Linked DNA regions of Homo sapiens. The protein of the gene in region 5 purifies or fractionates together with the protein of the main gene of each other region. This does not show direct contact. Each region holds a gene or a part of one and is shown on either strand. Other genes may lie near its edges. The genes, in order: BUD23, POP1, RCC1, SRSF9, FOXA1, VWA8 and SLX9.

Region 1 (4,617 bases), on a different chromosome or scaffold from region 5:
GGCAGGCTTCAGCAGTTGCTTTACCTCTCATTGGTGAACACAGACTCCCTGGGTTCAACTTCATCCTGATTTTCACTCAGCCCCTGCAGGAACCAAAGTGCACTCAGGTCACCCTGGAGAGTTCTCAAACCATCTGCCCCACTCCAGAAGCCCAGGCACCCAGGCCTGACCCTTCCGACAGGGACGAGGTCCAGTCCCACGAGAAGGAACTGACACGCCTTTCTGGGACCTGCAGAGCAGAGGTCTCTGCCTCCAGATTCCAGAGGATGTGAGCACTCCAGGGTCTGCACTCTGGGGCTGGGCCCTGCTTCCCCACCAGTGTTCTCCCAGCAGGCTCTGCAGGCTGAGCCCCACTGCCTGGAAGTCAAAAGACACAGGCCTGCCTGCAAACCCAGTGTCCCTCACCTCTGGTATAAAGGTCGAAGGCCCAGAAAACAAGCAGAGGTAGAATCTGAAAGGAGAAAGTGCAAAGTGAGGGTTGGGTGGAGAAAGCCCCACAGGGAGACAAGCCCTCAGCTCCCCCACCCGCACCCCCTCCGCCTGCCTGGACCCTGGTGACCCACACCCCAGCACTCCTCTGCACCACTGAGTGGCCTGAAAGGGCTATGCCACTACCCTCCCTCCTGCAGCCCAGGCAGCACACCGGCCCCCAGCGCTCACTTCTTTGCTTTGGCACTGTTAGGGTAGTCTACCACCATGCCACCGGAGAAGCCTGCCTTTGTGGCCTGGGTTGTGATCAGCTCCAACTGAGGAAAGAAAGGCAGCGGGTCAGGCAGCGGAGGTTGAGAGGAGCAGACAGCTTCACCTCCCTCCCCTCCTTCAGAAGCCAGTCTGCTCCAGGACAAATCCTGCCTGGGAGAACTTAAGGTCGCTGTAAGCCACGTAGAGAAAAGTACAGGCTAGAATCTGGCATGGCCCACACCTCCCTCAGGAGAATTACAGAACAAAGCAACTCCCCTCATTCTCACTTTCCAGTGCAGGGACCCAGCTCCCCACTCAAGTTTAGGGAGATGGCCACCAATTGGAATCCAGAGTCATTCATGTTATTAGTCAGGAACAGCTCTTCACTTATCTTTCAACATCTACATCCTACTCCGCCATTCCTTAATTTATACATCACACAACGGAGAACTGTCGGTGCCCTCTCACCCTTCCTAAATGGCATTTACTTATTTGGTTATGGAAATCAGTCGCATCACCTTATCTGTAATACCATGTCATCTGCCAAGAGAAGGCATCCCACCCCACCTCCGCAGATGCCACCCCCTTAGGATATCAGGTCATCAAATGTGCCATCAGGGGCCACACTAGGGTGCATGTTTCCTCCTTTTCCCGCCAATCTGCATAAGATTCTTTGTCGCTTCCCCAGGACAGCTTACCTGTTGAGTCCCCCAACTCCCCGGCACACCCAGTAGCCGAGGGACTCACCTGCTCTGAGTTCTCAGGGTACAGCTGCAGGACAGCTCGGGATCCCCGGACCTGAAAGAAACAGGAACATCACTGTCTTACAAATGACTGCATGAGCTTAGGGCCTGGACACCCCTCTCTTCCTTCATTCACCAAGTATTTCCTGAATTTCCATTATGTGTGAGGCATTGTTAGGGCTGGGGATAGTATGAACAAAAGAGATCACCCTGAACTTTGGAGCTCACATTTTAGTAAAGGAGGCAACTAATTCACAGTAGCAAATTTTTTCTTTGTTACAAAAAGAGGAATTAGACAAAGTGACAGAGTTTCCTTTCAGTTCAGTTTACTTTTGGTTCCAAAAAGGCCTGTTTCAAATGGATACTTGAGCAGAGATTTGAATGGAGTGAGGAGCTGGCTATTTAAACATATAAGGGAGGAGCCTTCCAGCAGGGAGAAGAGGAAACACAAAGGACCTCAGAACTAAAATATTAACCCAGTGTGCCAGGAGGAGAACTCATGTGACACACAAGACCAGCGGCCAGATAGGCAGGCGCAGTCCACCCCAGGAAAGGCCAGCGGCCACATCAGCAGGGGCAGTTCACCCCAGGAAAGACCAGCGGCCACATCAGCAGGGGCAGTTCACCCCAAGAAAGACCAGTGGCCAGATCGGCAGGTGCAGTCCACCCCAGGAAAACTAGGGGTGGGCTAGACCAGGCTAAGGAGGCAAAAACCACTCAGATCCTTCAAAACGGACTCATTTTTAAGCTGGGCACAGTGGCTTACGCCTATAATCCCATCACTTTGGGAGCCTGATGCCAGACAATTGCTTGAAGCCAGGAGTTTAACACCAGCCTGGGCAACATAGGTAGACCCCATCTCTTAAAAAAAAAAAAGTAAAAAATTAGCCTGGCATGGTGGTGTGTGCCTGTAGTCCAAACTACTTGAGAAGCTGAAGCAGGAGGATCACTTGAGCCCAGGAGTTCGAGGGCGCAGTGAGCTACGATCACACCATTGCACTCCATCCCAGGCAACAAAGCAAAAGTCTGTCTCAAAAAACAAAATTTAAAAAGAACTCATTTTTAGGACTTAAAATCTCAGACTATCAGCTAATCCTAGTGAACAACTGAAATTAACATCATTAATTTGAAGACAAAGCTAATAAAGGCTCTCTTTGCAGTAAATAACTATCCTGTTCCTCATCCGAAGAAAAGGATCAGCACTAGGAGGAGGGATAAGTGAGGAGTCAGAAGGATGTGGGCACTTTGGAAGGTACCCCTCTGGATGGTCCGGACACGACATCTCTGTCCTCACTCTGCTCAGTCCATGCCCCCAAACCAACTTCTGATTAAAACTCAGCGCAATAGACATAGGAATACCAATCAACAGAAGTAGGCCCTATTACAAGTTAATAAATTGGTCTCCGATTTTGGTATCAGTGACTTCTGGGTTTGATTAGAGTATATCAGTCCACTGAGCTTGAACTTCCATTTAGGCTGAGGACCTGGACAGAAGTAACCACAGTAAGGTCCTGCCACCCCATGCGGTCCCATATGAGTAGCTTACCCATCATGGGACACCTCAATTTCCTCACTCTACCTGCAGTGCTAGGGAGGGACAGGCAGCTAACCCAGATGGGGAGAAGATCTTATACTCACGAGAACAGAAAAAAGAGAAGCAAAAAAGCAGTACAGGCGCTTGGCAGGGTTTTCAGACTTCTTGTTAGCATTACAGAGCCACTGCACAGCAGAAATGCTAAAAAGGAAGGGACCTAGTCAGGCAACGGAGCAATCCACGTTGCTCCCCCAACCACTTCAAGCCTCTTGACATCATCCGTCCTGGCTCTCCAAGAGAAACCCCTCCTCCCACAGCTTCCCTTCTTAGAAAGTGCAGGTTGAGGCCACGTACAGTGGTTCAACGCCCTGTAATCCCAGCACTTTCTGAGGCCAAGACAGAATTGCCTGAGGCCAGGACTTCAAACCAGCCTGGACAACATAGCAAGACCCCATCTTTACTTAAAGTATTTTTAAATTTAAAAATTTAAAGACAAAAAAAGTGCAGGTCCACTGCAGGTCATGACTCTACAACACTGGAAAAATAGGACATACAGAAGGACAGCATTTATGTCCCATAGTCCCAAGAAACCTTTCCTCCACCTTGTTTCCATCTGCATCTTGAGTTGAAAAGTCCTCCGTGTCAAGGCTGTCTGCCCACACACCCCTCCTTGTTCCCTTCCTCCAATCCAAGGAAACAGGCTTTAGACTACTCACATACACACAGCCATCCCATCACCCTTCCTCCTAAATCACTCCCTTCCACTCTACCTGTTAAGTGTCTTTACAACCCCCAGATTTAAAACCTCAAGCAGCCAGGTGCATTGGCTCATACCCGTAATCCCAGCATTTTGGGAGGCTGAGATGGGTGGATCACTTGAGGTCAGGAGTTCGAGACCAGCCTGACCAACACGGTGAAACCCCGTCTCTACTAAAAATACAAAAATTAGCTGGGCTTGGTGGCATGTGCCTTGAATACCAGCTGCTCAGGTGGCTGAGGCAGAAGAATCACTTGAACCTGGGAGGCAGAGGTTGCAGTAAGCCTTGTGCCACTGTACTCCAGCCTGGACAACAGAGCAAGACTCCATCTCAAAAAATAAATAAATAAAACCTCAACCAGTCACTATGTCTTCCTTCCTGCCCTTCCCCTCCGCCCTGCTGTACACACACAGAGCCCTACCTCCACCCCACTGGCTTGTCCCACAGCCTCTCCCAACTTTCACTTCCCCGCACCAATGCTCAGTGCTACCAGCTCAAATGCTTCCACCTAACTCTCTCTCCTCTTTCACCAGAAAATCACCTTCCTTAAACACACATCTGATCCCGTCACCTGCCAACTCCCCATCATCTACTCCATCAAGCCCAAACTTCTTAGGACACACTTAAGTGCCTTCTAGGAAGCAACCACACTCAACCCCATCTTCCGTGGAATCTCTCGTTCATCCCTCTCATCTCAGACCCCTTTCCCACCGGCATCTGTGCCTCTGCCCACTGTTCCCTCACTCAGAAACCCTCTCCTTGACTATCCAAATTCCTCCCAGCCTTCAAGGTGCAGCCCCTCCACCCAAGGCTTTCCTGTGCTCTGGCAGCCCCATGACTCCCTAGGGCACACACCACTCATGCCCTTATATTCAGTTGCCTGGTCCATGTCCTAAAGCAC
Region 2 (4,617 bases), on a different chromosome or scaffold from region 5:
GTGTGCGTGTGCCATGTAGGTTTTCTTTTCTTTTTTTTTTTCTGAGATTGAGTCTCATCCTGTTGCCCAGGCTGGAATGCAGTGGTGCGATCTTGGTTCACTGCACCCTCTGCCTCCTGGGTTCAAGCGATTCTCCTGCCTCAGCCCCCCGAGTAGCTGAGACTATAGGTGCACACCACCAGGCCCAGCTAGTAGAGACAGGGTTTCACCATGTTGGACAGGCTGGTCTGGAACTCTTGACCTCAGGTGATCCGCCCACCTTGGCCTCCCAAAATGCTGGGATTACAGGCATGAGTCACCGCACCTGGCTGGTTTTCTGGGGCTAGTTTTAGGGGTCTAGAATCTCTAAAAAGGTTAAGAGCAGTATGTCTAGGGCAGCACTTCCAGTAGAGCTTTCTGTGAGGATGATGTTCCTTTGTGCTGTCCAGTACGACAGCCATTAGCCACATGTGGCAGTTGAATACTTGAATTGTGGCTAGAGTGACTGAGGAACTGAATTTATACCTTTACTTAACTTTAATTAACTAAAAATTAAATTTGAGTAGCTCTATTGGCAAGTGGCTAGCATAGAGACTAGATTAGGAATCTGCACCCTGGGTTCAGATCCTGTTCGTTTTCTGGTCTTAGTGCAATTAACTTTTCAATGCCTGTGCCTCTCACTGACTTGACGTGGTCAAATACGATGATAGAGCTGAACAGATTCTGAGTTTTTAGAAGAAAGATGCTTTAAAATACAAAAGCTACTTTTCTCCATCTTCACTGCTTCTGCTGTACTCTCAACCAGTGTTGTCTCTTGCCTGAACAATTGGGGGATCAGGAAAGGATTCTAGAGGGAACCTTAAGTTTCCTCCATCCTTCCTCCTTTTCAGCCCATTCTCCACACAAGAGGCAGAGTGATTTTTTGATAATTTATTCCCTCTTGTTGCTTCCTGATGAAAAGTTTTTGAATAGCTTCTCATTGTAATTAAGATAAAATCCAAAGTGCTCAATGTGACCCGTGTAATCTTGTGCCTTCTTGCCTCTGAGGCCTCATTTCTCCTCACCCTTCTACACTTCAGCCACCCTGACCTTCTTTCAGGTTCTGGAATGTCAGTTCTTGTCTCCCTTAGAGCCTTTGCACCTGTTTTTTCCTTCCAACTACTGAGCATTCTGCCTCCACCACTCTTTACTTTGCTGAACCTTCCTCATTCTTCAGATTTCAGTCTCTAGCATTTCCCTCTAGCATCCTTTCCTGATCCCCCAAGTTAAACTAGATCCCTCCTGTTGTTTTCAGAGAGAGCATCTTGCAAATTCCCTCAATTTATTTATATAGATTTGTGTATTTATGTAATGTCCATGTCTCTCATGAGACTGTGAGCTTCATAAGGGTGAGGATAGAGTTGGTCCTGTTTTTCACTCTCTCCCCAGTGCTTAGCACAATGTCTGGCACAGAGAGGGTGCCCCGTAGTAGCTAATAAGTTGTGGAGCAAAGATTTGAACCAATGAAGTTTGGTTCCAGAGCCTGTACTGTAAACCACTAAGCTGTGCTACCTGAGTTTCTGTGAGTAAATGGTACCTTTGTTATGATTGCTTTTTTTTTTTTTTTTTTTGTTTGAGACAGAGCCTCACTCTGTCACCCAGGCTGGAGTGCAGTGGCACAATCTCAGCTCACTGCAACCTCCACCTCTCAGGTTCAAGCAATTCTCATACCTCAGCCTCCCGAGTAGCTGGAATTACAGGTGCCAGCCAACACACCCGGCTAATATTTTTTGTATTTTTAGTAGCGGTTTCACTATGTTGGCCAGGCTGGTCTCGAACTCCTGGCCTCAAGTGACCCGCCTGCCTCGGCCTACCAAAATGCTGGCATTACAGGCATGAGCCACTGCACCCGGCCATGATTGCTTCTTTAGGATCCGTAAGTGCACATCCTACTTCAGTGAACTTCAGCATGAGTTGTGGCTATAGATTCCCTTCTTGCCATGCATGTGATACTTGAAGGACTTTTTGAAATCTTCCTCAATTCCTAGTTCCATGTGGAAAAAATATACATTTCTAGGAATAATGTAGTAGTAGTATATCTTTTATCTGGAAAGTTCTTCAAAAGGTACTGGTTTGATTTTCCTTTGGTGAGGAACATTTTATTGCTTACATTGGAGATGATGAAGTTAGCTCTAGTGGAAGAGGACCAGGCGTGTGGCTCACACCTGAAATCCCAGCTCTTTGGGAGGCTGAGGTGGGTTGATTGCTTCAGCCCAGGAATTCAAGACCAGCCTGGGCACCATAGTGAGACCATATATCTACAAAAAATAAGTTAAAAAAAATTAGCTGGGCATGGTGGCATGTGACTGTGGTTCCATCTCCCAGCCACTTGAAAGGCTGAAGTGGGAGGATCACTTGAGCCTGGGAGATTGAGGCTGCAGTGAGCCATGACAGGCCACTGCACTCCAGCCTCAGTGACAGTGAGACTGTGTCAAGAAAAAAAAGAGAGAGGAGCGAGGCCTCCTTTGTTGGTACTGCGCTCTGGAGAGACTTTGAGTGTGAAGTATCTTAGTGAGTTAGTCTATGAAAACCATAGATGATTTTCTTCATATGTGAAATCTTGAGAGAAGTGTAATACTATATCCTTGCTGCTAATTCAAAGGGTAGTTAGTCTGGTATTAATTACTATGTTAAGTATAGTGGCAACTTCCCTGGTTCATCCCATAACACATACATTTCCACACATAGAAGAAGAAAGAGTGGGGGCTGATATCACAACCATGACAAAATTATGAAGGTGGATTCATTGTTCGTCCAGTGAATAGTAGTTGTTATTTTTCAGGTGGGAGAGGACACAGAGGAGACACCTCACCGCTGGTGGATAGAAACCTGTAAGAAACCTGACAGCGTTTCCCTTCATTGCAGACAAGAAGCCATTTTCGAGTTGTTGGGAGGTATACAAAGGGAAGACTGGGTTGTGTTGGGGAGGGAAGGGGGCCAAAAGAGCCTTTTGCAGTTGGGCCTCCAACATGTAGTATTGCTTTTTAACCTGCTGCTATTGTGACACAGCAAGAGAACCAAGTAAGAGAGGGACTGAACTCAGTGAATAAACACTATATTCATGCCTGGTTATGAAACAACAAACAAATGGTATGTTCATATTCTAAGTAACTGGCATTCTGATAGTGGAGATAAATGCATACACCAGGTACTGACCTAAACTCTATGCTTACCTGCACACAACTGCATTTTTGCTCATAGCTGCTGTAGTTATCACTGATAGAAGCATATGTGTTCATTTCATAAAAGAACCTTTTTTTATGTTGGCCTCATGTTTTTTGCAAGAAACCTCATTCTTTATGAATGTTAACTTATTCTCTAAAAGTATCAATGGGAAGAGAGGGAATACATGTTTTTAAGTAATTAGTCCAAGAAAAACGTTTCATTAGGAAATCTGAAAGATTTAAAAATACAAGCAAATACAGATGTATTATGAATGACTTTCTGTAAACTTCTTTTTGTTGTTGTTAAAGGAATAACATCACCAGCAGAAATTCCGGCAGGTACTATTCTGGGACTGACAGTTGGGGATCCTCGAATAAATTTGCCCCAAAAGAAGTCCAAAGCTTTGCCCAATCCAGAAAAATGCCAAGGTAAAGTTCCAAAAACACCCCAGGTTTTCCTTACTATTTCGAGCAGTCCAGTCTTATTAGAAGAAGAGTTCTTTCTCTGACACCTCTCCAGTAACTTCATCTGTAAAAAATTAGGGCAGTCTCCTTACCTGCCCACTTTACAAGCTGATTATGATCTAAGGAAATGGTAGGTGTGGAAGTGTCTTTTAGCAGTAAAACACGTAGCCTGATACTTATGTTCATTTTATTTTCCGAGTTCTCTTTTTTTAGTATCTAGTAAAACCTGTCTCTCTGCAAACTACGTTCTCTGAAAATGTCTGGCGTTTCAGAATTTTAATTGTGAGGAAGGGATCTGCACCCGAAGCTGGTCTTGTGCTCAGTGGAAGCCTCTGTCTGACCATACAGATGATCCAGGTTCGAATCCTGGCAAGGCCATCCCAGGTGCTGAAGTATAAGATGTCTTGGTTTAGACTAAGTAGTACTAGAGGCCTGAGAAAGTTGTTTGGCTGGGGTGGCACAGGAGGTGGGTAAGGGGCTGGCTAAAATTTTGTTCTGATATGAGATTGGCAGCAATTTTGATAATGTCTCATTGTATTTACTGTCATTTAAACATGATTAATTGGAAGAATAATTAAAATTACCATGTGAGTCTTTGGAGATAAAGTAAAGGTTTGTGTTGTAACGACTTCAGAATTTTTTTTTTTTTGAGATGGAATCTCGCTTTTGTCACCCAGGCTGGAGTGCAATGGATGGCGTCATCACTGCAACCTCCACCTCCTGGGTTCAAGTGATTTGCCTGCCTCAGCCTCCTGAGTAGCTGAAATTACAGGCATCCACCACAACGCCTGGCTAATTTTTTTTTTTTTTTTTTTGTATTTTTGGTAGAGATGGGGTTTCACCATGTTGGCCAGGCTGATCTCAAACTCCTGACCTCAGGTGATCCACCCACTTCAGCCTCCCAAAGTGCTGGGATTACAGGCATGAACCACCACGCCTGGCCCAGAATTTTTTTTTTAATGTAGTTAGA
Region 3 (4,617 bases), on a different chromosome or scaffold from region 5:
GAAATATTTGGTGCTTTTCTTCTATCCTTTGGATTTCTTTCTTTTTTTTTTTTTTTCCGAGACGGAGTCTTGCTGTGTCACCCAGGCTGGAGTGCAGTGGCACGATCTCGGCTCACTGCAACCTCCCCCTCCTGGGTTCAAGCCAATTCTCCTGCCTCAGCCTCCTGAGTACCTGGAATTACAGGCGCCTGCCACGACGCCTGGCTAATTTTTGTATTTTTAGTAGAGATGGGATTTCACCATGTTGGTGAGGCTGGTCTTGAACTCCTGAACTCAGGTGATCCACCCACCTCAGCCTCCCAAAGTGCTGGGATTACAGGTGTGAGCCACCGCGCCCAGCCCTATCCTTTGGATTTCACCTTTGTGTGTCCTACAGAAATTGTTGCTTCTAGTGACAAAGCTAAGGAATTTCACGATGTGAACTTTGAAGTTGTTGCAGTCTCAGTGGATTCCCACTTTAGCCGTCTTGCCTGGATAAATACACCAAGAAAGAATGGTGCTTTGGGCCACATAAACATCGCACCCTTGTCAGATTTAACTAAGCGAATTTCTCGAGACTTCGGTGTGCTGTTAGAAGGTCCTGGTCTTGCACTAAGAGGTCTCTTCATAATTGACCCCAATGGAGTCATCAAGTACTTGTTTTTGTTTGTTTGTTTGTTTGTTTTTTTGAGACAGCATCTCACTCTCTGTTGCCCAGGCTCAAGTGCAGTGGCACAATCACGGCTCATTGCAGGTTTGACCTCTTGAGCTCAGGTGATCCTCCCACCTCAGCCTCTAGAATAGCTGGGACTACAAGTGCGCATCACAGTGTCCAGCTAATTTTTATATATTTTGTAGAGACAGGGTTTTGCCAAGTTGCCCAGGCTGGTCTAGAACTCCTGGGCTCAAGCGATCTACCCGCCTCAGCCTCCCAAAGTGCTGGGATTACAACAGCTGTGAGCCACCATGCCCGGCCGGAGCCACAGTCTTTAAGGTCATGAAAAACAATCAAGTTGTCTAAGCCTCTACCTAATGTTACGAAGGGAAGGAGAACTCCAAGAGCCCTTCTCGGTCTCAGCTCTGGGCCTAACCAGCAGCCCCCTCATTCCTTCCTTCTAGTGGTTCCCGAGAACCTCGCCTCTCTAGCTCTCCCCTCCATGGTATATGGACACAAGGCCAGGCACTTTTCTGCTGATTATCCTGGGGAAGGAGAACTAAATACTAAAGATGGGAAAGTAACCAAAGGTCTAGAATCCTGATAAGCCTTTGCAGGCTGAGCTTCTGCAGGTTGTCACTGGCCCAGTTCTGACTGATGAGGTGGCAGTTCTGAACTTCACCCAACTTTTATTCTCCCAGGGCTGAGAATCCTCCCACCTGTCTTTTGAGACCCCTTGTCCCACACTAAAAAGTGCACATTCTTTGGGATTAGAGGGAACTGGGTTCACCTTCCAGAGCTTGTGGCTGGCCAGTTGCCTTAACCTCTCTGAACTGTATCCTCATCTATAAAAGGGGATGCAATGACTACTTCTCAGGGCTGTCATCAAGACTGAATGAAATGGTTGTAAATCCACAAATATTTATAGTGCTTTACTACTAAGGGAGGAGACCACCCCTCATATTGTCTTATGCCCAATTTCTGCCTCCAAAGAAGTAAAAACTAAAAGGCAGAAATGAAATCCACAGGCAGACAGCCTGGCGCCGCGACCTGTGTCTGGTTAAAGATCGACCCCTGACCTAACCGGTTATGTTATCTATAGATTCCAGACATCGTATGGAAAAGCACTGTGAAAATCCCTGTCCTGTTCTGTTCCGTTCTGATAACCAGTGCATGCAGCCCCCAGTCACATATCCCCTGCTTGCTCAATCAATCACGACCTCTTCATGCAGACCCCCTTAGAGTTGTAAGCCCTTAAAAGGGACAGGAACTGCTCACTCGGGGAGCTCAGTTTTTGGAGACGTGAATCTTGCCAAAGCTCCCAGCTGAATAAAGCCCTTCCTTCTTTAACTGGGTGTCTGGGGGGTTTTGTCTGCGGCTTATCCTGCTACACTACTGCTTGGCTTTGGGTGAGGAGGTGTAGCAAGGATAAAGGAGACTAACCCTTTTTTACTCTCATAATTTGTTCATCCTTTGTATTTATTTTTGAGACAGGGTCCTGCCCAGACTTGAGTGCAGTGGCATGGTCATGGCTCACTGCAGCCTCAACCACCCGGGCTTGAGCCATCCTGGATAGCTGGGACTACAGGTGTGCACCACCACGCCCGGCTAATTTTTGTATATTTTGCAGAAACAACGTCTTGCCATGTTGCCCAGGCTGGTCCCGAACTCCTGGGCTCAAGCGATTCTCTAGCCTTGGACTCCCAAAGTGCTGGGATTATAGGTGTAAGCCACCATGCCTGGCCTTTTATTTTATTTTTTTAAGAGAGGGGGTCTCACTCTGTCACCTAGGCTGGAGTGCAGTGGTGCAATTAGCTTATTGCAGCCTCGAACTCATGGACTCAAGCGATCTTCCCACCTCAGCTTCCCAAGAGCCTGGGATCATGGGCACGTGCCACAGCACTTGGCTTGATTTGTTCATCCTAAAAAAGTCCAGAGGATTCTTGGCAGGCCTGCCCAAGATCCCCCTATGAGCTTGGCCAAACACAAAGACTCCCAGGCTTGGGCTTAAATGACCAGGTAGATGGTAGACTTCCATGTAGTGAGATAGAGAACACTGTTGAACAAACAGGAGAGAAGAGACGTGAAGCTCCATGTTGCTAGGTGTTTTCATTCAATCTGAAGTGCTTGGGAGCCATCCCAGAAAGGATGTCAGGCAGGCAAAGTTAGATGGGGTAGGGATGTGGGATATAAGAGGCATCTTTGTGGCCGGGCACGGTGGCTCACGCCTGTAATCCCAGCAGATTGGGAGGCCAAGGCGGGTGGATCACCTGAGGTCAGGAGTTCGAGACCAGCCTGACCAACGTGGAGGAACCCCATCTCTACTAAAAATACAAAATTAGCCAGGCGTGGTGACGCGTGCTGTAATCCCAGCTACTCGGGAGGCTGAGGCAGGAGAATCGCTTGAACCCAGGAAGTGGAGGTTGTGGTAAGCCGAGTTTGCACCATTGCACTCCAGCCTGGGCAACAAGAGTGAAACTCTGTCCCTCCACCAAAAAAAGAGGCACCCTTGTTTTAGATAGACAGCTGTATGCCAAGGCAAACATCTCATCAGTTCATCAGAATAATCTGTAGCAGTCTGCTGTGCCTGGGAGGGAGACTGTATTAGCATGAAAAGTACTCACAATAAGAAGTCAGGAGAAAAAGCAGGAAACAATTATGTCAGCACAGTTGGTGCTGATGGCTGGGCTGCCATGAGCACAGCCCGGAATGGAGTCAGACACATAAGGGCTATATGAAGTGTTGGTGTCATGGGGCATTAACCAAAAAATCTGTTATCATGGATGGAACAAACCCAGTCAACATCTCCTTAGTTGTGTTTGGCTAATATTCTGGAGCGTTTCACTACAAGCTGGCCACAATGATCCCACTCTACAGAGAAGAAAACTGAGGCTCAGAAAGGTGAAGTATCTCACTCAAGATTGGAAGAGAAGGCCAAGATCTGAACCAAGTTAGTCAGACTCCAGAGCTGGCGTCCTTGAGTGTTATTAGAAATTTCTTCTGGCCGGGCGCGGTGGCTCACGCCTGTAATCCCAGCACTTTGGGAGGCCGAGGCGGGCGGATCATGAGGTCAGGAGATCGAGACCACGGTGAAACCCCGTCTCTACTAAAAATACAAAAAATTAGACAGGCGTGGTGGCGGGCGCTTGTAGTCCTAGCTACTCGGGAGGCTGAGGCAGGAAAATGGCGTGAACCCGGGAGGCAGAGCTTGCAGTGAGTCGAGATCACGCCACTGCACTCCAGCCTGGGTGACAGAGCAAGACTCCGTCTCAAAAAAAAAAAAAAAAAAAAAAGAAATTTCTTCTGCCTCCTTCCTCCCCATGCTCCCTAGTAGTCTCTCAGCTTGCCTGGAACTGTGTCTCCTCCTCCTTTCCCTAGGAAAGACAGCAACTTTTCACTGGTCTTCCGGTCCCCACCCTCATCCCCTCCTCTCATTCTCCAAGTCATTCGTGATCAATAAATATGTGTGTGTGTATATATATACATATATATATTTATTTTTTTTTGAGACAGGGTTTCACTCTGTTGCCCAGGCTGTAGTGCAGCAGCACGTACACGGCTCACTGCAACCTCCACCTCCTAGGCTCAAGCGACCCTCCTGCCTCAGCCTCCAGAGTAGCTGGGACTACAGGCATGTACCACCACGCTTGGCTAATTTGTAATTTTTTTTTTTCTTGTAGAGACAAGGTCTCACTATGTTGCCCAGGCTGGTCTCAAACTCCCGGGCTCAAGTGATCCTCCCACCTCGACCTCCCAAAGTACTGGGATTATAGGCGTGAGGTACCATGCCCGGCCTCATTCATGATCTTTCCAAACCTCAAACCTGAAGCAAGCTGCTGGCCTGCTTGGACTCCTTAGTGGTCCCCTTTTCCTGGAAGATAAAGCCCACATTTCTTAGCTGGGTATTAGAGGTCTCCAACATCGGGTACTGACAGAACCTTTAGCTTCATTTCCTATCTATCACATCCTCCCTTCTCTTCCCA
Region 4 (3,905 bases), on a different chromosome or scaffold from region 5:
TTGAATGCAGGCTAATTTTATTTATTTATTGTATTTATTGAGATGGAGTCTGGCTCTGTCGTGCAGGCTGGAGTGTAGCGGCACAGTCTCAGCTCACTGCAACCTTCGCCTCCTGGGTTCAAGAGATTCTCGTGCCTCAGCCTCCTGAGTAGCTGGGATTACAGCTGCGCGATGCCATGCCCAGCTAATTTTTATCTTTTTAGTAGAGACGAGGGGTTTCACCAGGTTGCCCAGACTGGTCTCAAGCTGCTAACCTCAAGTGATCCACCTCCCAAAGTGCTGGGATTACAGGCATGTGCCACAGCGCCTGGCCTGAATGCTGGCCAGTTTTTATTCAGAGTTGTTCTGACCTCCTAGCAGTTCTGCCTCTCCCAGTCTGCATTTTACGTAGTCAAGGTTGCACTGGATATGGTCATTGTTGCTTTTAGTTCTAAAATCTTACAAGTGATTATGTGCCTGTGACACTGAACAATGCCTTCATTAGCACATTCAGCTCCTCTTGTCCACCCAAGCTCCAAGGTCACACTTTCTACCATCCAATACTGGAGAATCAACGTGGCATTCCTGACTCTCCTAGAGTCCTAGGAAAGACTTAAAGTAATTTTATTGAATATTTATCTCTTTTGGCAAAATTGTATCCAAAGAATGTTTTTTGACAAAAATAGTTCTCCAAACCATGCTGAAAAGGTACACTTAGAGTTCCAAGGCCAGGCGCAGTGGCTTATGCCTGTAATCCTAGCACTTTGGGAGACTGAGGGGAAGGATCGCCTGAGCCCAGGAGTTCAAGACCAGGCTGGCCAGCAGAGGGAGACCTGTCTCTACAAAAAATCCAAAAATTAGCTGGGTGCAGTGGTACACGCCTGTGGCCCTAGCTATTCAGGAGGCTGAGGTGGGAGGATTGCTTGCGCCCAAGAGTTAGAAGCTGCTGTGAGTTATGCTCCAGCCACTGCACTCAGCCTTGGTGACAGAGCAAGACCCCGTTTCAAAAAAAAAAAAAGTTCCACATTCATCACAAAACACTCATTTGCATTTTTCTTTTGTCCTTTGAGCCTTATTTATTTATTTTTTTAAAAGACCGGGTCTCACTATATTACCCAGGCTGGCCTGACCTGGGCTCAAACATCATGCCCAGCTACTTTATTTACCCTCAAATACTCTCCTATCTAACTGGCTACTTTTTTTTTCCTGTTTTTTGGGACAGGGTCTCTGTCACCCAGGCTGGAGTACAGTAGTGTGATCTTGGCTCTGCACTCCCATCTCAGCCTCTCAAGTAGCTGGGACTACAGGCGTGCAACACCATGCCTGGCTAACCGCCTACTTTTTATTTCCATAGACTTTATGGCACTAGGCTTTGTAGAAAAATATTAAGGGGTTAGTGTGTGGTGTGCTTTTCGAGAAAATGCTCACGAAGATTAGAAAAACACTGATGGTTTATTGGCAAAATCAATAATCTGTCAGCAGTTGATTCTTTTTTTTCTCTGAATTAGCCCTCTTATGAGTAATCTGTTTGCTCATTCATTATAATTTCATACCTCTAAAACTGCGTGTGACAGCTGTAAAGGTTAATTCCAGTATCATGAAACGTCTCCAAACCAAAGCAGAAGTGCTTCAGGATCCTGATTTGTGTGTTTTTTTCTTCACTCTAGGTTTCCCTTTTATGCTTACTACTCATGCCCCTCACTTGGAAAGTCACTTGGCCTCCTGAACAGCACTAACTCCAAACGTTTTTTTTGTTGTTGTTGTTTTTTTTAGAGATGCAGAGGATGCTATTTATGGAAGAAATGGTTATGATTATGGCCAGTGTCGGCTTCGTGTGGAGTTCCCCAGGACTTATGGAGGTCGGGGTGGGTGGCCCCGTGGTGGGAGGAATGGGCCTCCTACAAGAAGATCTGATTTCCGAGTTCTTGTTTCAGGTATGTTCCTTTCAAACAGAATGAGATGATACATGTAAAATACTTAACACAGAGTCTGTCTTCCAAGAAATGATAGCTGTTATTCTTCAGTGCATGGGACACGGGGGCTTTCTTTTCAATAGCCTGTGTGAAGCCTTGCCCTGGATTGCCAATGAGGAAAGTATCCTGCAAATGAAATTGCGCTGGGAGTGCAGCCTTGGAAGAACATAACCATATTTCTTGTAAAGGAGTTTTCTAGTGGTGAGAAGGAAAGATGATGGGAAAACTTGAGCTACAATTCTAAAGATGCTTCTTTTGGAATATACTTGGCATCAGACATGGTAGAAAGGCATTCAAGGAGCCAGATTTGAACAACTTACCCAGCCTTGGATCCTGAAGAAGATCAGATTTTGTGGTGGTTTTAGAATTAAATATTTTTTAAAACCCCGTAACTTAAGAGTCTTAGAGATTTTATTGGAAAGTATAGACTATTTCTGTCTAGTGTTTATAAGTGATGAAATGCTAAACTGGGAGGTTTATCTATCTTCAAAATATTAACACACTGGAAAGACCTGGGGCCTTCTGCATATTGCATGGGAGTTTTAGGGCCCTGGTGGAATGAAATAAATCGAGGAGCCTGGCACCTTTTTAAGATGTGAATGTCACACAATCACAGCATACTCCCATGTGCTTAAGAGTGATACTCTCAGTATCTGCCTATCTTGTGTCCCTTTGTAATTTTTTAACCCCAGAACTCTATTCCCTCCTTCAGGATGTCATACATTATCTTTTTTTCTCTCCATGCTGCTCTGAAATCCTGCTTAGAAAACTATTAGGAAATGGCTGCAGTCCTGAGCTGTGAGCGGTAAACACAGCCTTTGAGAGCAGGAGCACATTTCCCTTTCATGACATCAGGTAGGGTTGTATGACTCCCGACTAGTTTTAGCATCTGAGTCTTACCTTCCCCCCCACTGTATTGAAGAATGTTGGTGATCTTTTAAGAGGTACTCTGTATAGTTTGTCATTCATACCTACAAGAAAACAAACTTTAGATTTTTTGTTGTTGTGTTGTTACCTTCAGCTACTCTTTGGTTATTTCATGTCTGGTTTCAAAATTCCCATGTCCTGTGAAACCCTGTCAAGCAATAAATAATTGGTACTGTTAAATTTCATAATGGAAAAAATTGGAACTCAAAGTATTAGGAGTTTGGCATTGATTTTAAAGGACAAAGAAAGAGGCTATGAATTCTCAAAGATACTAAACCTGTAATGGGATGGACTTCTTGCTCTGTTGAAAAGGCCTGGTCTCTGGAAGATGAACTTAAAACCAGCTTCTCAAGGTGGTTCATTTACCACACATACTTCAGTGCTCTTTTCTGATTTCATGTCCCTTATCAAGGTTTATGATTTGGGGACCCTCAGGATTTAAGTGATCATGGAGAAAGGACCATAGGTATTGCTGGCTCTTAACAGGGCAGTTAACATAGCTGAAGGATGTGGGCTTTCTTATGTTCTCCATGCCTAGGACTTCCTCCGTCAGGCAGCTGGCAGGACCTGAAGGATCACATGCGAGAAGCTGGGGATGTCTGTTATGCTGATGTGCAGAAGGATGGAGTGGGGATGGTCGAGTATCTCAGAAAAGAAGACATGGAATATGCCCTGCGTAAACTGGATGACACCAAATTCCGCTCTCATGAGGTGGGTCCTTGCCTTCTGTTGAGGAGCTTGTACTCAAATCACTCCACTTGAACCTGACCTAGCAGAGGTAGCAAGAGGCCATGCCATTTGGTAACCTCACAGTACCATAAGAGATCTATCTTAGGTGGACAAAGCCATGGAATTTGCTATGCCTAAGTCCTTCAGGGTCATAGCTGAAAGAAGTATGCATTCATGGTACGTTTGTTTTTTAATATGCTTTATTCTGCATATTAGTATCACATTACACAGTTTGGTCATGGTATTTGTAACCTGGAGAGAATACTAGTGCAGTCGGTCTTCATACCACCCCATTCA
Region 5 (4,315 bases):
GCCTGCCGCGCTAGGATTTTCCCCCTGCCGTGCAAGACATCTTTGCTCGGTCTGGGGAGGGCGCTTAGCCATTTGCCCCGGGTGGGGGCGTCCCGTGTTCTGCAAAGTGCTCTGCACTTGCCCCCGGGTTAGGTCCCGGACGGCCGCCCTCCAGTGCCCACCACTAACCCCGCCCTCCGGGGCTTCTTCACTCGCTGTCTCCACTCCAGGCCTACTCCTCCGTCCCGGTCAGCAACATGAACTCAGGCCTGGGCTCCATGAACTCCATGAACACCTACATGACCATGAACACCATGACTACGAGCGGCAACATGACCCCGGCGTCCTTCAACATGTCCTATGCCAACCCGGGCCTAGGGGCCGGCCTGAGTCCCGGCGCAGTAGCCGGCATGCCGGGGGGCTCGGCGGGCGCCATGAACAGCATGACTGCGGCCGGCGTGACGGCCATGGGTACGGCGCTGAGCCCGAGCGGCATGGGCGCCATGGGTGCGCAGCAGGCGGCCTCCATGAATGGCCTGGGCCCCTACGCGGCCGCCATGAACCCGTGCATGAGCCCCATGGCGTACGCGCCGTCCAACCTGGGCCGCAGCCGCGCGGGCGGCGGCGGCGACGCCAAGACGTTCAAGCGCAGCTACCCGCACGCCAAGCCGCCCTACTCGTACATCTCGCTCATCACCATGGCCATCCAGCAGGCGCCCAGCAAGATGCTCACGCTGAGCGAGATCTACCAGTGGATCATGGACCTCTTCCCCTATTACCGGCAGAACCAGCAGCGCTGGCAGAACTCCATCCGCCACTCGCTGTCCTTCAATGACTGCTTCGTCAAGGTGGCACGCTCCCCGGACAAGCCGGGCAAGGGCTCCTACTGGACGCTGCACCCGGACTCCGGCAACATGTTCGAGAACGGCTGCTACTTGCGCCGCCAGAAGCGCTTCAAGTGCGAGAAGCAGCCGGGGGCCGGCGGCGGGGGCGGGAGCGGAAGCGGGGGCAGCGGCGCCAAGGGCGGCCCTGAGAGCCGCAAGGACCCCTCTGGCGCCTCTAACCCCAGCGCCGACTCGCCCCTCCATCGGGGTGTGCACGGGAAGACCGGCCAGCTAGAGGGCGCGCCGGCCCCCGGGCCCGCCGCCAGCCCCCAGACTCTGGACCACAGTGGGGCGACGGCGACAGGGGGCGCCTCGGAGTTGAAGACTCCAGCCTCCTCAACTGCGCCCCCCATAAGCTCCGGGCCCGGGGCGCTGGCCTCTGTGCCCGCCTCTCACCCGGCACACGGCTTGGCACCCCACGAGTCCCAGCTGCACCTGAAAGGGGACCCCCACTACTCCTTCAACCACCCGTTCTCCATCAACAACCTCATGTCCTCCTCGGAGCAGCAGCATAAGCTGGACTTCAAGGCATACGAACAGGCACTGCAATACTCGCCTTACGGCTCTACGTTGCCCGCCAGCCTGCCTCTAGGCAGCGCCTCGGTGACCACCAGGAGCCCCATCGAGCCCTCAGCCCTGGAGCCGGCGTACTACCAAGGTGTGTATTCCAGACCCGTCCTAAACACTTCCTAGCTCCCGGGACTGGGGGGTTTGTCTGGCATAGCCATGCTGGTAGCAAGAGAGAAAAAATCAACAGCAAACAAAACCACACAAACCAAACCGTCAACAGCATAATAAAATCCCAACAACTATTTTTATTTCATTTTTCATGCACAACCTTTCCCCCAGTGCAAAAGACTGTTACTTTATTATTGTATTCAAAATTCATTGTGTATATTACTACAAAGACAACCCCAAACCAATTTTTTTCCTGCGAAGTTTAATGATCCACAAGTGTATATATGAAATTCTCCTCCTTCCTTGCCCCCCTCTCTTTCTTCCCTCTTTCCCCTCCAGACATTCTAGTTTGTGGAGGGTTATTTAAAAAAACAAAAAAGGAAGATGGTCAAGTTTGTAAAATATTTGTTTGTGCTTTTTCCCCCTCCTTACCTGACCCCCTACGAGTTTACAGGTCTGTGGCAATACTCTTAACCATAAGAATTGAAATGGTGAAGAAACAAGTATACACTAGAGGCTCTTAAAAGTATTGAAAGACAATACTGCTGTTATATAGCAAGACATAAACAGATTATAAACATCAGAGCCATTTGCTTCTCAGTTTACATTTCTGATACATGCAGATAGCAGATGTCTTTAAATGAAATACATGTATATTGTGTATGGACTTAATTATGCACATGCTCAGATGTGTAGACATCCTCCGTATATTTACATAACATATAGAGGTAATAGATAGGTGATATACATGATACATTCTCAAGAGTTGCTTGACCGAAAGTTACAAGGACCCCAACCCCTTTGTCCTCTCTACCCACAGATGGCCCTGGGAATCAATTCCTCAGGAATTGCCCTCAAGAACTCTGCTTCTTGCTTTGCAGAGTGCCATGGTCATGTCATTCTGAGGTCACATAACACATAAAATTAGTTTCTATGAGTGTATACCATTTAAAGAATTTTTTTTTCAGTAAAAGGGAATATTACAATGTTGGAGGAGAGATAAGTTATAGGGAGCTGGATTTCAAAACGTGGTCCAAGATTCAAAAATCCTATTGATAGTGGCCATTTTAATCATTGCCATCGTGTGCTTGTTTCATCCAGTGTTATGCACTTTCCACAGTTGGACATGGTGTTAGTATAGCCAGACGGGTTTCATTATTATTTCTCTTTGCTTTCTCAATGTTAATTTATTGCATGGTTTATTCTTTTTCTTTACAGCTGAAATTGCTTTAAATGATGGTTAAAATTACAAATTAAATTGTTAATTTTTATCAATGTGATTGTAATTAAAAATATTTTGATTTAAATAACAAAAATAATACCAGATTTTAAGCCGTGGAAAATGTTCTTGATCATTTGCAGTTAAGGACTTTAAATAAATCAAATGTTAACAAAAGAGCATTTCTGTTATTTTTTTTCACTTAACTAAATCCGAAGTGAATATTTCTGAATACGATATTTTTCAAATTCTAGAACTGAATATAAATGACAAAAATGAAAATAAAATTGTTTTGTCTGTTGTTATAATGAATGTGTAGCTAGTAAAAAGGAGTGAAAGAAATTCAAGTAAAGTGTATAAGTTGATTTAATATTCCAAGAGTTGAGATTTTTAAGATTCTTTATTCCCAGTGATGTTTACTTCATTTTTTTTTTTTTTTTTGACACCGGCTTAAGCCTTCTGTGTTTCCTTTGAGCCTTTTCACTACAAAATCAAATATTAATTTAACTACCTTTCCTCCTTCCCCAATGTATCACTTTTCTTTATCTGAGAATTCTTCCAATGAAAATAAAATATCAGCTGTGGCTGATAGAATTAAGTTGTGTCCAACGGAGACTCATGAACTCTCTTCTCATTAAAAGAGAAACGAAACTTAGCCATCAGGGTAGCTCTGGAGGAGGTGGGAGGAGGGGAGTTAATTCACTCTCGCAGGGGAAGCGTTGTACCGACAGGACATTTTAGGGTAGCCGCTATTTTGCATTTTGTGAAGATTGTTTTAAATTTTGATTCAAAAATGTCGTTCCTAAGAACTTAAAGTTGATAATTTGTTTCCTTCTAAGGAGCTTTTAAATGCAACTTCACACTCCATAGTTGCTTGGGATCACAAAATCATTAATCTCCTTTGATAGCAGGCTCACTTTCCAGTCCACCTATTTCTTTGTAAGTCTTGTTCGGATTGACATCAACAATAACAACACCAGCTCAAGCAGAGGCCTGCCTGCCTGAGCCCTTGTGTATGAACTCCATCCTCACCAGGGCTTGAACTTGGACAGCCTTTACTTTGATCGCCCCACTCCACACCGCGGACAAGATAAAAAGAGCCGTGTGAGTCGCTTAATTATCGCGTAATTGCCTCCCCAGATGAGAGAAAGGGTGCCATGTAGCACTTGAAAAAATCCAGAAATCCCAAACCCCCACTCACTTCAGTTAATGAAAGGAGGAGGGGAGGGAAATTACTGGTTTGAATAATTTCAAACCCTAATTTGGAGACCTCGGAAGGACATCAAAGTCCCAAAGAGAGGAAAAAGCTTCCAATCCCAACAGTTACTCTTATTTACATAAGGTAAACAAATTCAGCTTCCAAATGTAATATAAAGGCGTGGGCTTGGGCCTCGGAATCCCGCCCCCACTGAATCTAAGATGTTTAACTTCTGTGCTGTCCTCTCTGTGATGTTCCCTTTCTCCTTTTCAACGTATTAGAAACATCAGCGCCTTGCCTTCACCCCACCAAGCTTAAGTTGGCCTTAGCTCTCGCTCTGTTACTTGCCGGAGACAT
Region 6 (4,617 bases), on a different chromosome or scaffold from region 5:
GGAAATCAGTAACAAAAAGGTAACTGGAAAATCCCCAAACATTTGGAAATCAAGCAACAGGCTTCTTAAAAAATCCAAAAAATAAATCACAACGGAAATTGGACTCATTGGGAAACAGGGTGGTGATCAATGAGCCACATCTGCAATAGACAAAAGGGAAAAGTTATGACATTCATATGGACCAGGCATCTGCCATCTCTGCCTCAAACATTGATGTTCTTGGCCATCTTCTGTTACTACACTACACTTTCCTCAGTCATTTAATCCATACCAATGTCCCAACTCTGACCTCTATACAACCTTTTTTTTTTTTTCAGTTAAGGGTACTCTTCAAACACCATATACAACTAATTCTTTAAATGTCTATTTTGGCTCAGATCTCTCTCCTGAGTTTCATACCTGCCAGTAGCCTACTGGAGACTTTACCTAGATATTCCAGAGACAACTCAACAAACACACAGAAACAGAATTCTATATTGTCCATTGTGTGCGCCTAACCACCTCTAACCAGCTCCACCTCTTGTATTCCTATCTCAGTGACTAACACTTTATCTCCTCAGCCTAGAAGACCTTCCACATCTCTCTCACACCACTTGCCCTCTACACAACTACTACTGAAATATCTTCATCTCCCCATTGAACCTTCCCTAACTTTTCCTCTAGCACAAATTGATCACTCCATTAGTCTTTCTGCTAGCACAGGATCTGATTTATGCTTCTGTAATGGAAATACAAATTCAAGGAGATAAGAGACATTTTCTAACAATTAAAGAAGAGCTTTTTATCTACTTCCAAAATAGAGATAGGATATTCTATTTCCACTTAAAAGATACACTCAGAATTTGTACTAAATTACTAGAATATTCTGTTTCCACTTAAAAGATACACTCAGAATTTGTAATATTTTTTCTTTTAAATGCCAATATTTACAACATACTGGAAATGTCATCGTTTGCAACTATTTAAACTTACCAGGAAAACTTTAGCTATTAACCTAAAAATGTTCAAAGGGATACATATTTTTAAAATCCTCCTAGCAGATAAATAAGAAAAATTTTTGAAGACTACTGTTTAGTCTACAGGACTCTTTTTTTCTTGGTGCAAGGCCTAAGTTTTAATCATCATTTTATCCCCAATACCTGAAACCTACCAGATATTCAATAAATGTTTGACAAATGAATAATTATAATTTTAAATTTTTTCTTAAGTATTGTTTTTAAGCTGTAATGTTTTCTCCTTTGAAAACATCCCACCTACTAATGTGCTTATAAGTCAAGCCATCTATAATGATTTAAGTGAGGTAGTTTACTCTCTAAAGGGGAATAAGAATACTTATAAGACAACAGGTAACATAATTTAGGCAAAAGAAGCAAATGTATGCCTTTCTTCATGTAAACTGTGGGTTTACTTGAACTAGACTCAAATACTATTGAAGTGTCTAAAGTGCCTGAACCTTGCTGGATTTCTGATTGGTTCAGTTCACAGGGGCTCCTGTTAAGAAGTACACTACAGTCTTTATTATTATCCTGAGATTCTTCATGATAGCCCTTCTGGTGCACCATATCCTCTCAAGTCTTAAATGTTTGTATGCAGCCATTCATTGAGCATTCAATGGTCTCACTTTGACCAGAACAGCAAGAACATAAAGAATTATTCAACTGATATGACATCATGGCTTTTAAATTCCATAATGAGACCAAGTAAGTCCATTAAGTTGGTGACAGAGAGTGGCAACAATGCCCAAAGTTTCAGTGAATCTGTCAAAATTGAGAAGCTAACCAAAGGGGCAAATTGTTAAATTCAACCAAATTTGGTCTAAGGATGCCTCCGTACTTGGAGTCCTTATGTAATGAATTGCAACATAACTTTGTATGTAAATTAACTGAAACCGGAACTTAGGAGTATACTTTGGTAACAAATAGATGAGTCTTAGCCAATCTGAGCAGCTGAGCTTGGGTCAACCACAGGCTGCCAACTGATGAGACCGTGTTCAAGTAAGGCAAACACTGAGTTATAGCCAAGTAAGCTGTTTCCGTACCTGACTTCCATTTTCTGTCCATAAATGCTGCCTGCTCACGTTTCAGAATGGAGCTCTCTGAGCTTATTCTGGTTCTGAGGACTGCCCAATTCACAAATTGTTCTGTGCTTAAATTCTGTTAAGTTTAGTGAGTCTAAAGTTTCTAACAGTAGCTTTGACAAAGAAGTTGGTTTCATGAGGGTTTTTCAACAGCGGCCCTATGAACATTTTGGGCCAGATAATTTTTTGTTGTGAGGGGCTGTCCTGTGTGTCATGGACTGTTTAGCAGCATCACTGGCCTCTACCCGCTAGATGCCAGTAGCACCCCTCCCTCCTGGTTCTGATAACCAAAAAGAAACATCTCCAGACATTGCTAAATGTCCCCTGAGGGGGAGAAATCACCTTGGGTTGAGAACTACTGGGTTAGTGTCATCATTTTTATATATACTAAACTTAGACCCAAGAGAAAACTAAATATATCAGCAATTCCCACACTAGTCTATGTGCCCCTAATGCAGATCTGCCTAATGATTTATAAGCTTACCATTGTTCTGAGCCTTTCTGTTAAATTCTTGAATACACAATGGGGTCAGAATATCCTCAGGGTCAAAATAACCTGCTGCAGGTTTAAAGTAGTTAATAATTTCCCCAAGGTTCAATACCTGATAAATACAAAACTTAGACCAAAACCACAGTATAGTTCTTTCCTCTTTACACTGTATTTCTCAGTTGAAGCCACAGTTCTATATTTCCCCTCCTCAAAGTTATTTCTATCTAATCCTATTGTAGCCCAAGGATATAATCTTAAAATAACAAAAATTCATGTAGATGGATGTTTATTGCATTGTTTATATATTTTAGACAACATGAATGTGCAAGAATGAGACAGTAAAATAAATTATATGGACAAACATATAAACTTAATAACTACTTTAAACAATCATGTACAATGATATTTATTACCATGTTAATATGTTCACAATAATGGATGTAATAATTATAAAACATACATGATCCCATTTCTTTAAAAAAATGTATCTGTATAAATATACATATCATCCAGGCACAGTGGCTCAAATCTGTAATCCCAGCACTTTGGGAGGCAAAGATGGGCAGATCACTTTAAGTCAGGAGTTCGAGACCAGCCTGGCCAACATGGTGAAACCCCATCTCTACCAAAAATACAAAAATTAGCTGGGGTGGCTCATATGGTTTGCCTGTGTCCGACCCAAATCTTGTCTTGAATTCTAGCTCCCATAATCCCCATGTGTCATGGGAGGGACCCAGTGGGAGGTAATTGAATCATGGGGGCAGGTTTTTCCTGTGCTGTTCTCGTGGTAGTGAAAAAGTCTCACGAGGTCTGATGGTTCTATAAAGGGGAGTTTCTGTACACAAGCTCTCTTACTTGCCGCTATGTAAGACGTGACTTTTCTCCTCCTTCGCCTTCCACAATGATTGTGAGGCCTACCCAGCCATGCGAAACTATTGAGTCCATGAAACCTCTTTTTCTTCATAAATTACCCAGTCTCTGGCATGTCCTTATAGCAGTGTGAGAACAGATTAATACAGTGGTGCACACCTGTAGTCCCAGCTACTTGGGAGGCTGAAGCAGGAGAATCGCTTGAACCCAGGAGGTGGAGGTTGCAGTAAGCCAAGACTGCTCCACTGCACTCCAGCCTGGGTGCCACAGCAAGACTCCATCTCAAAAATAAATAAATAAATAATTATACATATATATGTAATCTGATAGGATTAATGCTAAAAAGTTGATAATTATAAATTTGGGTGGGAGGATCATGTTTTAGGGAATCTGTACTTATCACTCTTCTATAATAAACATAGATTGCTGTGTAAAAGTATTTTAGGGTATTTCTATAAACAAATTTACTTCATATACAAGAGTCATAAAGAAAAAACTGTGAATCCCTTTAATAATAATGGCGTTAAAGGAAAGCACCAAAATGTCATGATATATTTATACAGTTATGTTTCTAGGTTTATCATTTGATCTATAGTATATTTGAATCCATTTAACATCAGAGTCCCACTGAAACAACTTGCTTGGCTCCATCTGTAAAAACACTACAATAATCTTTATTGAAAACTCTCTGCAGTAGATATCCTTGTTAACCTCTTTGCTCTTAAAACCAAGAGACAGTAATTTTAATGGAAGTATAAAGAGATATAAAGAATTTACAATTATAGATACTTATACTATCTGACAGCACAGGATAAAAAGCAGTGGGTTTGGGTTGAGTTTATCTGCTTGTTTTGTTTTTAACATAAATGACCTATTTTCCTTCTGCTTATCAGGCTTAACAAAGGTCCTCTCTTGAGAGCAAACGACAATTCCAGCCTCTCCTGCTCCTTCTCTGTATGAACTTTCACAAAATAAGCCACTGAATGCTTACTAGGTACAAAGTGTTGGCAGGCACCAAACGAATATATAGATAAACAAAACAAATACTCCAGGAGAAATAACAGCAGTATATAACTTAAATATATTATTTATGAACTTTGTTGTTCTTTTTTCAAACTATTAGGAAGCAATGTCAATTACAGAGAGAGGAGATAATCAGTTACTGGTCACATGTATGAAT
Region 7 (4,339 bases), on a different chromosome or scaffold from region 5:
TGGGGAGAGGCGGAGAGGGAGGCCAGGCAGGACGATGGCCACACGGAGAGGGCTCTGCTGTTCGCAAACTGTCTCCAGACAAGACTGGCCTGGGAAGAACTCAGTTCATAAACAGAGAAGCAGAAACCAAAGAGGACAAACACAAAGATCTACGGGAAGACCCTGCTCCTCAGGAGGCCGAGGCAGGAGGATCGCTGCAGCCCAGGAGGCGGAGGCTGCAGTGAGCCTTGATCACACCTCTGCACTCCAGCCTGGGCCACAGAGCAAGGAACTGTCTCTAAAAAATAAAAATAAAAACTTTTTAAAAAACTAAAAAAGACAGTTTACTATACTATCTATACTTCACCTAGACCCTACAAAGTGTCTAGAGTAAAAATGGATTAGAGAACATGAGATGGAAGACAGATAGATTAGAGAGATCCAGTAAGTGCATAATTGGTGCCCCTGAAGAAGGGCCGAGACAATAAAGAAATCTTTGGAGCTACCATTCGACACCAGCTTCCCAACATAACTGTACTCACAAAACAGACAGCAGCTTCTAAGCATAATCGAACTCACAAAACAGACTTCAGACTCTCAACTGGAAAGGCACAATGGGCCTCGGTAGAACTGACACAAAACGCTCCCACTGATAAACACCTGAGTAAAGCCATTTCAAACCACAGGAAAAATCATCCCAGCAGCTAACTAAAACCATCTTACAAGGGCGTAAAATGTGGCTCTCTCAGTGGAAACTGGAGCTGAGTCTGCAAAGAGGCAAGAGAGCGTGCGTGGTCTGGAGATTTTTGTACCCAAGAGGACAACTGAGTACAAATTTCTGCAAATCAGTGTCCTAGCCCTGCTAACTGGGGGCCGCAGTGCCCAGTCACAGAACCAAACGTATCATCCAGATTTCAACCAGCCAGCGGAGGGGAGGGGCGGAGATGGGGCTGCGTCCACCCATCATTTTAGATCCATGACTCCCCTTGGAAGCCTTCCTGGGAGGCGGGACTTGACCCAGGGCCACAGGACCTGACTGCACTGAAAAGCCCCCCTGGAGCAGACAGGCAGGAGCCAGCGGAGCAGCGTGGAGGGGACTAGAGGCACGGGCGGGGCTCTCAGCCGCTGAACCCCTGGGAGGGCAGGCTGGAGGCACTCAGGACCCCTGGAGAGGGCGGGGTGGGGGCACACAGGAGCTGAACCCCTGGAGAGGGTGGGCGGGGCGAGGGCACATAGGAGCTGAACCCCTGGAGAGGGTGGGCGGGGTGAGGGCACTCAGGAGCTGAATCCCTGGAGAGGGTGGGCGGGGCGAGGGCACATAGGAGCTGAACCCCTGGAGAGGGTGGGCGGGGTGAGGGCACTCAGGAGCTGAATCCCTGGAGAGGGTGGGCGGGGTGAGGGCACTCAGGAGCTGAACCCCTGGAGAGGGTGGGCGGGGTGAGGGCACATAGGAGCTGAACCCCTGGAGAGGGTGGGCGGGGTGAGGGCACTCAGGAGCTGAACCCCTGGAGAGGGTGGGCGGGGTGAGGGCACATAGGAGCTGAACCCCTGGAGAGGGTGGGCAGGGTGAGGGCACTCAGGAGCTGAACCCCTGAGGAGGTGGGCAGGTGCACTCACAGAAGCTGCTGTCTCTGGGCTGCGCTCATCCGGCTGAGCTCTGAGGGCCGGGGCTTGTTGCTCTCCCTGCTGTGGACACAGAGAAGCCACGTGAGTCAGCATCCAGCATCCCCTAAACACCTTCCCGTGGGCAGAGGCTGGCTCCTCCCTTCTTAGAGCAGACGTCGTGGTGGCCAGAGGTGACCAAACCACTGCAGAACCACAAGTTCCAAGCTGCACTGTGGCCATGGAGGCGAGACCTGGACAAGCAGTGCAACTGCCTGACCGTCCTGTGACCGCCCCGGACAAGCAGTGCAACTGCCTGACCGTCCTGTGACCGCGGGCCCCAAGCTGCTCCGTGTGGAATCTGGTGACTCCTGCAGCTCCTCCTGGCTCCATGGGACATGGAGGGAGTGGTCAGCCAGGAACACGTCTCACGATATACAGCGTCTCCACCCCACCTGCCTGGCCAGGGCAGGCTGCGCAGACACCTCACACTTCGGGCCAAAGGACCCTGGCAGGCACAGCCAGTCCCACTCCCGCAGTACACACCACTTCCCAGGAAGGCTGAGTCACCCACCCAAGCCTACATGTCCCCAGGTCCTCTCTTTAGAAGAAGGCGCACGCTGTGCTACAGTGGGAAGCTGCACCTGCCCTCCTGATGACTGAACTTGGGGACAGGGGCGTGGACCCACCGTAGATCCTGCCCTGCCTGCACCTGCGGGGGGTGCCAACGAGCACTGCAGTCCCCCATGGACAGGTGGAGGAACTGAGGAGGTTTCCTGAGTGCTGCTGGCTATTTCCTTTAGTCCTGGGATCTCCAAACCACCAAGCTGGGCCTTGACTAAGGGCACGGGCGGGCCAGGACACTCTCATCTCTGACGTCCACCCCAGGCAGGCTCCGGCTGCCCGCGGAGCTTCTCACCCTCAGTTAACCGTGGGAATCTTCGGGAGCTCGCCTGCACTCCTTGTGGTCAGCCGGCCAAGGCAGCCGCCCACCTGGCCGAATGTTCACATGGGACAGCGACCTGGGCCTTAAAAGGAACAGAGAACCCGCAAGGCCACACCAGGCGCCTTCTCAGATCTGCCGTCCACACAGTGAGATGGGACCCAGACGACGGCGGGAAGGCAGAGACGCAGAGTCCTCAGACCAGCCCTACACTTAGCCTCGGGCCAGGAGACTTCATCTTTTATTCATGGATCTCTTAAAATATGAATGACAGACATTTTGTGTCTGCCCAAAATAGCCCTCAGCACCCGCTTTCTTTTAACCCTAGCTCTGCGCTGATCTGGGGAAGGAATCAGTCCCCATCCCTTCCTGCTCACACTGGCAGATGACAGCCCCTCGCATCTCCCGTCCCCTCTGCCCGCTCAAAGCCACAGCTCCATTCATTGCAGGGGCTCTGCCGGGGCTGACGACATCTCCCCACGGCCTCTCCTGGGCCAGCCTTGCCCCGATGCAGAAGCTCTGCCCCCCTGGCCAGCCGACCCCCTCCCTGTGTCCACCCCTGAGCAGCAGCTCCCTCACTGACTGCCCAGAGCTGTCCCCGGTCCCCATCCTTGCAGAAGCCATCAGCGTGGGGCCCCTCCTCTAGGTGCACCCTGGTGCCAGGGCTCTGGGCAGCCACGTGCTGGGTCAGGAGACCTGAGCCCGGGTCCAGGACATCCTTCCTGGTTGGGGAAACCTCGGGCCCTGGAGCTGCACCCTCACTTTAAGAGATGAACTAGCAGTGGGGGTGGGACCAATGCCTCCCAAGGTCCCAAAGCAGAGGAGCTGCACCCAGGGTGGCTGCAGTGCCCATGAGGCCAGGCGCGGCACCTCCCCTCCCCACTGCGGGGACCGTCCCCCACCCACGCGTCCCACACCCCATCCTCCCAGGCGGGACGCACAGCCTACCCAGTGGGGTTTCCGGAGTTCAGGGCCCCGGGGACAGAGTGCTGGGCGGTTACCGTCATGGGCCAAGGGCAAGCACCGGCAGGGACGCGACTCCACGAGGCCTAACAGCAGGAAGCCGAGGAGGAATTGGAGCCTAACTCCGCCCAGTGTGGACCCTCACCAGCCCCCACGGCACTCCCTCCAGGCAGGAGCAGCGGCGTCACCACCACTCCCCTCCCGACAATCACCCACAAAGCGCACACAGGAGGCGGAGGTCCACAGCATGGGGGGTCCCCTCCCGACAACTGCCCACAAAGCGCACACAGGAGGTGGAGGTCCAGAGCATGGGGGTCACCGGAGTCAAGTGTCGCTCGATGCCTGCTTCCCAGCCAGGAGTGACGTGGACCCCAAACACGGGCCCTGCCCTGGCCTCTGAGATTCCAGCTCTGCATCCTGCACCCCAGGGGCATGAGGCCCTCAGGGCAGGGCGCCAGGACAGGGGATTGAGGGAGCTGGGTTGGGAGGGGACTGAGGGGACTGAGGGTTGGGAGGGGCCGTGGGGCAAGGACCCAATGCTTGGGTTCCACAAGGACAGCTCTGCCAGCCCAAGCCATATGTTCTCCCCACTAGGTGGGAAGGGGAGAAGTGAGAGACAGAGCTCCAGGCTGGGAGGGAGAGGCTGTCCACCCTCCAGCCTCCCAGGCCACTGGTGCTCGCCTGCTGACCCCTCAAGCCCAAAGCACATCAGAGTCCAAGAGTGGTGGTCAGTGGGGCAGACCTGCCTGCCGGGACCAAGATGCAGTTCCCAGAGACACGGCCCGCCGCCCAGGCACGCCAAACCCCAGATCCTGGGACAGGCGCACCGAGCCCCAGATCTCAGGGTCTCAC

Evidence for each region.
Region 1: the proteins of FOXA1 (region 5) and BUD23 purify together in Homo sapiens (affinity purification with mass spectrometry, with the first as the bait; 2 studies listed by BioGRID). This does not show direct contact.
Region 2: the proteins of FOXA1 (region 5) and POP1 purify together in Homo sapiens (affinity purification with mass spectrometry, with the first as the bait; one large-scale study listed by BioGRID). This does not show direct contact.
Region 3: the proteins of FOXA1 (region 5) and RCC1 purify together in Homo sapiens (affinity purification with mass spectrometry; 2 studies listed by BioGRID and IntAct, with this or other methods). This does not show direct contact.
Region 4: the proteins of FOXA1 (region 5) and SRSF9 purify together in Homo sapiens (affinity purification with mass spectrometry, with the first as the bait; 2 studies listed by BioGRID). This does not show direct contact.
Region 6: the proteins of FOXA1 (region 5) and VWA8 purify together in Homo sapiens (affinity purification with mass spectrometry, with the first as the bait; 2 studies listed by BioGRID). This does not show direct contact.
Region 7: the proteins of FOXA1 (region 5) and SLX9 purify together in Homo sapiens (affinity purification with mass spectrometry, with the first as the bait; 2 studies listed by BioGRID). This does not show direct contact.

The regions. Positions count from the first base shown.
Region 1 is NC_000007.14:73,689,458-73,694,074, reverse strand, and holds part of BUD23 (18S rRNA (guanine-N(7))-methyltransferase), read right to left. Parts: intron 3,160-4,617; coding exon 3,063-3,159; intron 1,480-3,062; coding exon 1,429-1,479; intron 747-1,428; coding exon 661-746; intron 452-660; coding exon 406-451; intron 84-405; coding exon 25-83; intron 1-24.
Region 2 is NC_000008.11:98,137,278-98,141,894, forward strand, and holds part of POP1 (ribonucleases P/MRP protein subunit POP1), read left to right. Parts: intron 1-2,800; coding exon 2,801-2,912; intron 2,913-3,491; coding exon 3,492-3,611; intron 3,612-3,919; coding exon of another isoform or gene 3,920-3,927; exon of another isoform or gene 3,928-3,988; intron 3,989-4,617. UniProt on the Homo sapiens protein: Component of ribonuclease P, a ribonucleoprotein complex that generates mature tRNA molecules by cleaving their 5'-ends. Also a component of the MRP ribonuclease complex, which cleaves pre-rRNA sequences.
Region 3 is NC_000001.11:28,522,338-28,526,954, reverse strand, and holds part of RCC1 (regulator of chromosome condensation), read right to left. Parts: intron 598-4,617; exon of another isoform or gene 342-597; intron 22-341; exon of another isoform or gene 1-21. UniProt on the Homo sapiens protein: Guanine-nucleotide releasing factor that promotes the exchange of Ran-bound GDP by GTP, and thereby plays an important role in RAN-mediated functions in nuclear import and mitosis.
Region 4 is NC_000012.12:120,463,635-120,467,539, reverse strand, and holds part of SRSF9 (serine/arginine-rich splicing factor 9), read left to right. Parts: intron 1-1,752; coding exon 1,753-1,913; intron 1,914-3,417; coding exon 3,418-3,590; intron 3,591-3,790; exon of another isoform or gene 3,791-3,905. UniProt on the Homo sapiens protein: Plays a role in constitutive splicing and can modulate the selection of alternative splice sites. Represses the splicing of MAPT/Tau exon 10.
Region 5 is NC_000014.9:37,588,606-37,592,920, reverse strand, and holds the end of FOXA1 (hepatocyte nuclear factor 3-alpha), read left to right. Parts: intron 1-209; coding exon 210-1,556; 3' UTR 1,557-3,369; downstream 3,370-4,315. UniProt on the Homo sapiens protein: Transcription factor that is involved in embryonic development, establishment of tissue-specific gene expression and regulation of gene expression in differentiated tissues.
Region 6 is NC_000013.11:41,953,885-41,958,501, forward strand, and holds part of VWA8 (von Willebrand factor A domain-containing protein 8 isoform a precursor), read right to left. Parts: intron 1-4,617. UniProt on the Homo sapiens protein: Exhibits ATPase activity in vitro.
Region 7 is NC_000021.9:44,970,523-44,974,861, reverse strand, and holds part of SLX9 (ribosome biogenesis protein SLX9 homolog), read right to left. Parts: intron 1,666-4,339; coding exon 1,597-1,665; intron 1-1,596. UniProt on the Homo sapiens protein: May be involved in ribosome biogenesis.